2 linked regions of the Homo sapiens genome follow. The protein of the gene in region 2 purifies or fractionates together with the protein of the main gene of each other region. This does not show direct contact. Each region holds a gene or a part of one and is shown on either strand. Other genes may lie near its edges. The genes, in order: SPPL2B and C5orf15.

What was found.
Region 1: the proteins of C5orf15 (region 2) and SPPL2B purify together in Homo sapiens (co-immunoprecipitation; one large-scale study listed by IntAct). This does not show direct contact.

The regions. Positions count from the first base shown.
Region 1 is NC_000019.10:2,338,684-2,342,493, reverse strand, and holds part of SPPL2B (signal peptide peptidase-like 2B isoform 2 precursor), read right to left. Parts: exon of another isoform or gene 3,743-3,810; coding exon 3,653-3,742; intron 3,430-3,652; coding exon of another isoform or gene 3,426-3,429; coding exon 3,286-3,425; exon of another isoform or gene 3,204-3,285; intron 2,671-3,203; coding exon 2,528-2,670; intron 2,419-2,527; coding exon 2,322-2,418; intron 1,597-2,321; coding exon 1,480-1,596; intron 1-1,479. UniProt on the Homo sapiens protein: Intramembrane-cleaving aspartic protease (I-CLiP) that cleaves type II membrane signal peptides in the hydrophobic plane of the membrane. Functions in ITM2B and TNF processing.
Region 2 is NC_000005.10:133,954,707-133,958,632, forward strand, and holds the end of C5orf15 (keratinocyte-associated transmembrane protein 2 precursor), read right to left. Parts: intron 2,285-3,926; coding exon 2,153-2,284; 3' UTR 804-2,152; downstream 1-803.

The sequences.
Region 1 (3,810 bases), on a different chromosome or scaffold from region 2:
TTTTTAGTAGAGATGGGGTTTTGTCATGTTGGCCAGGCTGGTCTCAAACTCCTGACCTCAAGTGATCTGCCCGCCTCACCTCCCAAAGTGCTGGGATTACAGGCATGAGCCCCCGTGCCCAAACTGTTTATTAAATTAAAACTTGTGCCACACCAGGTTTCCTCAAAGAACCTCTGGGTCCACAGTGGGTGGGGCTGCCATGCGGTTGGTGCCCTGGGGCAAAGCACAGAACTGCCTCCTGCACAAGGCCACGGCCCCTGCAGCCAGCCGCAACTTCGGCTCTCTCCTGGCCCCACGAAGCCCCAGAGTCCCCTCCCCGCTGGCCCCTGCCCCCAATGCAGGCTCTGCCTGTCACTTGCTGGACGAGTTCCCCAGCGTTCCTCAGCGTCTCAAACATCAAAGGCTTCATTTGAAAATGGGATAAAAACATCTCCAGGGCGGGGCGGCTGCTAACAGCAGAGGCCTCCATGGGAGACGCTGGTACAGCCAATTCCAGGCGCCACGTACTTCAAGCACCCAGAGAACTGCGGCCAGTTATTTTTTCTGATTTTATATTATTTCTTAAATAGGGCGTCTCGCTTGTTGCCCAGGCTGGTCTTGAACTCCTGGGCAAAGTGATCGTCCTGCCTTGGCCTACCAAATGCTGGGATCCCAGGCGTGAGCCCCTGCGCCCAGCTGACTGAGGCCTGCTCTAACTTCATGTGACGGAGCGAGTTTCCTGGCTTGGAAATAACTGAAAAGATTCATTTTCTCTTTGTGTACAAAGGATTCAAAATATTTTCACATCTTCCTTCTGCCAGTTAAACGTGCCGTGGCTCCAATACACACCAAAGCCAAGCGTACTTGGCTGCCTCAGGAAGGCTGGGAGGAAGTGCCAGATGGTATCAGCGACAGCGGTGGGGACCGGGCGGGGACGGGCCAGCTCTGTCCTCCCAACACGGCACCAGGCACTCGGCCTCATGGGGGAGGCCCGGCCAGCGGGAGGCAGCCACAAGTCCAGGCCACGTGGGAGGTGAGCGTGGGGGGAGCAGTGCCTGCCCCACCTCCACCACTGCTCAGAAGCCGCAGCAGTCATGACCAAGAGGACCGGGTGCCCTGGTGCCCACACCCTGGGCCTCGAACCTGCGGCGTGCACGTGGGTGCCAGGAAAGGGACAGCGGGGGACAGACTGTGGCCCTGGGCAGCGATGCCCCACAAAGGAGTCCCATCCAGGCTGGAGGACGTGGCTCCTGGCCACAGGGGCTCCGGCCTCTCCTCCCGGATTCCAGTCAGGGTTCCCATGACACCCGGACAAACCCCAGGTGAAACGCCCTCGCAGCCCTGTCAGAGCAGCCCGGGGCCAGGGCTCTTCATCACGCGGTGCTGAAGCAGCTCCAGGCTGGGGCGGCCTCCAGGGAGGGCAGGGAGTCAGGGCCCCAGGAGCCCTGGTGCACCCGAGGACTCCGCTGCCCGCCGGGGCCCGGGGGAAGCAGCACTTACTGGTCCTCGTTGCGGAAGACGCCCCACACCACGCTGACGGCCACGCAGAAGAGCGCCAGGAGCAGCATACGGGCCTGCGGGCGCTTGTGGAAGTAGGGCAGGCTGTTGTTGGGGATCCTGGGGGGCACGGGGCAGTCAGAGCCAAGCCCACCAGCTCCCGGCCTCATCCCACTGCCCACCACCCTTGGGACCGGCCCAGGCACCCCCTGCAGAGTGGCAGCCCCCACTCTGTTGTCCTCATTAAACTCCACATCCCACACGATGACAACAGTAGGCACCCCAAGGGCAGGGCAGAGCCCGACCCGGGCAGGCGCTGGGGGCCACGGGCTGTACCCACAGAGCCCCTCGCCTGCGCTGCGCCCCTTCGCCCGAGGCCCTGCCTGCTCCAGACCTCCCACCTCCTCACCCAGGGACGGCAACACAAAAAGGTCTCCCCCTGGGCTAGCCCCGCTTCCTAGACCCAGGTCTGACTTTGTTGGAGACCCCCCAGCAGCTCCCTTTACCCCTAAGAGCCAGGCCAAGCTCTGGGCTGTGGGGAACCTTCTGGGTTCCCCGGAGAACCCTGGGGAACCCAGGGTTCGGCCTGCGACCTGGGGCAGGGTTCCTGGGGACAAGGGCACCCTCCCCCCGCCACCCCTGGCGCCTGGCTGCTGGTGGGCTCCATTGATAGCTCGCCCAGACTCCGCCCTGCTCCTGGGCCTAGGAGCCCCAGGCCAGCACTGAGGGAGCGCCTGCTGTAGACTCTGAGCAATATTGCACCATGGGGGGCTATGGGGCGGCAAAGGGGCCGTGGCCATCACCGCACAGAGTCAGGCACGTCGGGGCCAGCAGGGCAGACTCACCTGCACTTGCCGAAGGGCAGCCGCCGCACACAGGGCGCCAGGCAGCTGTAGAGGCCGGTGGCGGAGGCCAGGCAGAAGATCCCGATGACCACGTACACTGCAGGGGCAGGGCCGTGAGGCCGGGGGCCAGGCCCGCACGCCACCCTCCCTCCGCACGGGGCGGGCTGCATCTCCACGCCGCGGCCCACCCGCCCGGGGCCGCGCACCGAGGAGATCGTAGAAATAGTAGAGCAGCACCAGCATGGAGCAGCACATCACCACAAACACGCAGGTCATCACCGGCGTCACGTCCACCGCCTCGTCCTCCTGCTTCTCGGGCCCATCGTCGCGCTTGTGCTTCATGTACCTTCTTGGGAGACACCATGGGGTCGTGGGGCCCTGGGGCCGGCTGGCCGACACGGGGCTCGGGAGCCCACAGCCACCCGGGGGAACGGGGCAGAAAACCCGGGAGCAGGAGGGGACCCGGGGGGGACTGAAGTGCAAGGAACCGCCCCGAACGTCCCCAGGGCAGAGGAGACCACACAGCAGAGGGTGGCAGGGCCCGCGTCCCTGGGTTGAGCTGGGGTGGCCACTAGGCCGGGCCAGAGGCTGGCGTGTGGGCAGCAACCGCAGCTTGGATCTGCATAAAGAGCCCTGGACATGGGGCCTCCCCAGACCCAGGCGGCTCAGCAGGAAGAGGGTAGCTGGCCCCAGCCACCTGCCCAGCCCTGCACCTGCCACGCCCGTACCTGCCACATCCACACCTGCCCAGCCCTACACACCCACCAGGTGCCCGGAGCCCACCCTGGCAGGAAAAGAGACTGATTCTGTCCCAGGACCTCCTGAGGAAGAAACGAAGGGCTCCACGGGGCGAGCCGTGCCTGCCGAGGCCAAAGCACTCACTGCTGTTCTGGAAGACTGGCCGTCCCGGCCCGTGTCAGAGCCGCCCGACCCCGTCACAGCACACGCACGATGCGAAACTCACTTCTTCACGTCCCGACTCCCGGCCCAGTAGCCGCCGATGGCGACGGTGCCCACAGCCATGATGAAGATGATGACCATGTTGTAGTCCAGCACCGGCTCCTTAGGCGCATACAGCGCCGCCCTCACCGTGCGGCCGAAACGCTGCCTCAAGGAACACACCGGAGGCAGGCGTCAGAGCCACCCGCCAGCCATGGGTCGACGTGCAGCTGTGGGCTGTGGGGCTGGGGCTGGAGACCCTGGCCTGCAGGGGCCACGCCTCACCCACCACCCTGATCCCACCAACTGAGGCACAAACCCCCCCGGCAGCCAGCCCGAAGCCCCCTGCCCCATCTCCTCGGGAGCGTGGGTCTGAGCCGGCGCAGACCTACCGTGAAGATGTCCAGCATGTCTTTGTAGCTGAGCAGGGCCACGGGAATGCCAATCTCATCATACTGCGTCTTATTACCCCCCGGGGGGACCTGGGGGCCCAGAGGAGGGAGCGGCAGGCATCACCCGCAGCAGTGGGTGGGCCCCCAGCTCTGTGCCC
Region 2 (3,926 bases):
TCTTTATAAATTATCCAGTCTCGGGTATTTCTATAGCAATGTGAGAACAGACTAATATAACATGCCTGCCTGACTGCCCAAATTCTAAATGTCTGTTTCTGTCTGCCCCACAAGTTCCAACACATTCCTTTTCAGCTAAGACACAGAAACGGGAGCTAAAAGGTAATCTATTATACCATTAGTACCAAAATCGGGTGCAGAGCTTCAGGTCTGACCAGAAAGTGAGTCTAGTCTAGGAGAAAGGAGCAGATAACACCACACAGGAGGAGGTGGCATGAGGTTGTGAGGCTCAACTGTGGCCCCTGCGTGCCTAGTCCCTAGCACTAGTTCCTAGTGCTCAAGTGCCTCTGTGAGACTCCAGGGGCATTTTTAATCAATGTATGATCTGATGCTCCAAAAGTCTGAGGCTACTTAATTGCAGCACTGTGACCTAGGTGGCTGGACCACCAGGAAGTACCCAAGAATCCCCCAATCCACTAAGGGGGATGAGCCTCCACACTCGGGGAGCCTTCCATCCCAGATAGTGACCCCAGGATGCTAGAAAGAGCACACTGATTTAGCCACTTTGCTTTTCTTTGCCATCCTACTTTGCTACAGTTTTCAATAAACTTCAGTACCTCGCAGTAAGTTGGACCTAAAGAAGAATTTAGCAATGTAAGTGGAATTCATAGAGGCAGAGTTGCACTGCTGAGAGGGACACCTGCAAGTGAATCAGGTTAGATTGCTCCCAGACATACACTACTCCCCGTCACCACCTAAATGTCATCACTGAAATGAAACACAGAAACACACTCGTGAAATCATAGATTTATATCTTTGCCATTTATTTTTTAAAATCTTATTCAAAATATTAAATAATAGTTTCAGATATGAAAAAAATTACTGCAATAAAACGGTTCAGGGGTATTTCCATTGTGCTTCCCTTCCCTATTAGGAAAGTACACTGTCCGCCCAAGAGACAGGATGGACGGCCTTCTTCCAGCTCTACATAAAGCGCAAGCCCACTGGCTCACCCGGGTCCTGCTTAACATATATTAGGGCTATGTTTTCTAAAAAGCTGTAGTGACACTTGTAAGTCAACCATGGTTCAAATCACATATTTACATATTGATCAATTCTTTATGATAGAAAGACAGACATAAATGAATCCCATAGTAAATACTTTCCAGTTGCCATAAAAAACAAAAACAAAGAAAACAAGTGTGGGGGAAAAAAGGTAATTGTACACAAATATCCTTTATGTATACAAACAACTTCATTCAGGTATAATTTTAATTTGAAAGACCTAGGTACAGTATTATTTAAGTGATAATGACCCCTAAGATTTATTCAAATTTACTGTAAAATAATAAACGAAGTAAACGAATCTGATATAATTTTAAACTCTGCCCATTGCTTGAAACCTTGGAGGAACCCATGCTACAATCAATTGCTAACTAAAAGCAATTGTACATGTATTTAACATTTTACCAGTTTCTGCTTCTAAATTTAATATAGTAATTCCAACCAAAAAAATAGTATCTCTGTAACATTTTATCTATGTCCACTGCAAGCTGCAGAGTCTCTGTTGCCAAGATTTCTTGACACATTTAATGTTTTACCTAAAATTGTGGTCAGATTGAGCAATATCATTATCCTAAATTATGTTTAAATTATCTAAAAATATCCAAAGCAGTTTTCTTGGAAGAAAAAAAAATATTACTCAAATCCAAAGCATTATCACACATATCCTTGTACATTACAGTTTGGGAACAAAAAAAAATGTGGATAAAAAATAGTATTTGAATGGCGGAGAATGAATGTGAGTCAGCAGTAACAGATATGTCAGAATTTAGTTACAAGTTTGGGATCTTTTAAAAGTAGCATCACTAATACTTCCAGAAGAAGCATAATAAATCTAAAACAATAAAAACTAACAGTGTAAATATAAGGTAATGTTTAACTCACATTTTGGACACCTGATTAAACTCAGCTCTAAAAGTACAGATAAAAAATTATATACTCGTTTGTGACATTTAATTTCCAAAGCACCAAGGCAAAAGAGAGACTCACCTCTCATTTAAGTACCAATTGCCTATGGCAAACATTTGCACAATATCATATAAAAAGTCAAGCAAATAAAATTACATAAGCAAATTCAAATCACAGTGCTTTAAAAAATATAATCATTGGTAATCTTCAAAGAAGGCATTGCCTCATTAACATTCTGATCTAGGCGATGGTATTCCACTGTTTTGGAACAAAGGCCATCACGCCATTTCCTGCTTTGAACCAGAAGAAAAATCTGGAAAACAGAAGTCATTAAATAGGCAAAAGAGAAAACAGAGAATATGGTAAACATTTTTATAACAAGTAAAATATCTCTCTTCTAGGTTTCTAAATATAAAACACAAAATATCAACAACAAAAAAGCTATTTTAGGCCGAGGCAGGCAGATCACTTGAGCCCAGGAGTCCGAGACCAGCCTAAGCAACATGGTGAAACACCATCTCTACAAAAAATACAAAATTAGCCAGGCATGGAGGCGCTTGCCTGTAGTCCCAGCTACTCAGGAGGCTAAGGTGGAGGATCACTCGAGCCCAGGAGGCAGAGATCACAGTAAGCCATGACAGCACCACAACACTTCAGCCTGGGTGACAAAGCAAGACCCTGTCTCAAAAAAAAAAAAAAACAAAAGCTATTTTGCTTTCCATCTTGTAAAGAAGGCTAAACAGTGCTTCTCAAATTTCAATATATATAGGAATGTTTGTTAAAGACTCAGATTCCTAGGCTCTATCTTCAGAGACTGAGTTAGTACTTGAGGTAGAGCCCAGGAACCTACTTGTTTAACAAGTCCCTTTGATGTTCATAATAGAGATGGCCAAACACTAAACAGTGGGATATAATATCAGCAGCACTCAAGGTTCTGTCTACCCATAAACACTTACAAAGCTAGCAATATAGCACTAAATACAAATAACCAGAAGAGTTGGTTGGTTTGCTTTTTTTTGAACTATTATTAGAGTCACTGATTCTCAAAGCAGGAAGGCATTTTGAAATTATCAGGTCCAGTTTCACTATTTGTCAGGTAAGGAAATCAAGGCCCCGAAGGGGAAGGTGGCTTACAGTGTTACAAAGCAAGTTACAATAAAGTCAAGAACTGAGACTTCCTGACCAGTAAGTATTAAAAAGGAACTGTGTGTTTGATCTCCCTTTAAGGATTTTAAAAGGCTTAACTATTCAGCTTTGGGACTGTAGAGTGCCAACATGTACCCTCACACTAAATGTGATGTATCCTGTCCTACAGATGTCTCTTGTGCCTCATGTAATCCAGCAAACTGGTAACAGCACAGAAATGTTCATCACAATATTATTTCTGAACCAAAAATTGTAAACCATGAATCTAGTATGTTTTTAGCCAGGCACAGTGGCTCACGCCTATAATCTCAATTACTTGGGAGGCTGAAGTGGGAGGATTACTTGAGGCCAGGAGTTCACCAGCGTGGACAACATAGCAAGATCCTGTCTCAAAAAAAAATAATGTTTTTAAAGAATATTAAGGATATGGAAAATGCTCATGATTGGTCAGGACATAAAACTCTATGAGATAGCTGGGTGCAGTGGCTCATGCCTGTAATCCCAGCGTTTTGGGAGGCTGAAGTGGGTGGATCACTTGAGGCCAGGAGTTTGAGACCAGCCTGGCCAACATGGCAAAACCCCGTCTCTACTAAAAATACGAAAATTAGCCAGGCGTGGTGGCCTGCGCCTGTAGTCCCAGTTACTCAAGAGGCTGAGCCATGAAAATCGCTTGAACCTGGGAGGTGGAGGTTGCAGTGAGCCGAGATCGCACCACTGCTCTCCAGCCTGGGAGACAAAGTGAAGCTCTGTCTCAAAAAAAAAAAAAAAAAAAAAAAAAAAACTCTGTGAGATAAAATTCCTTAAAAATC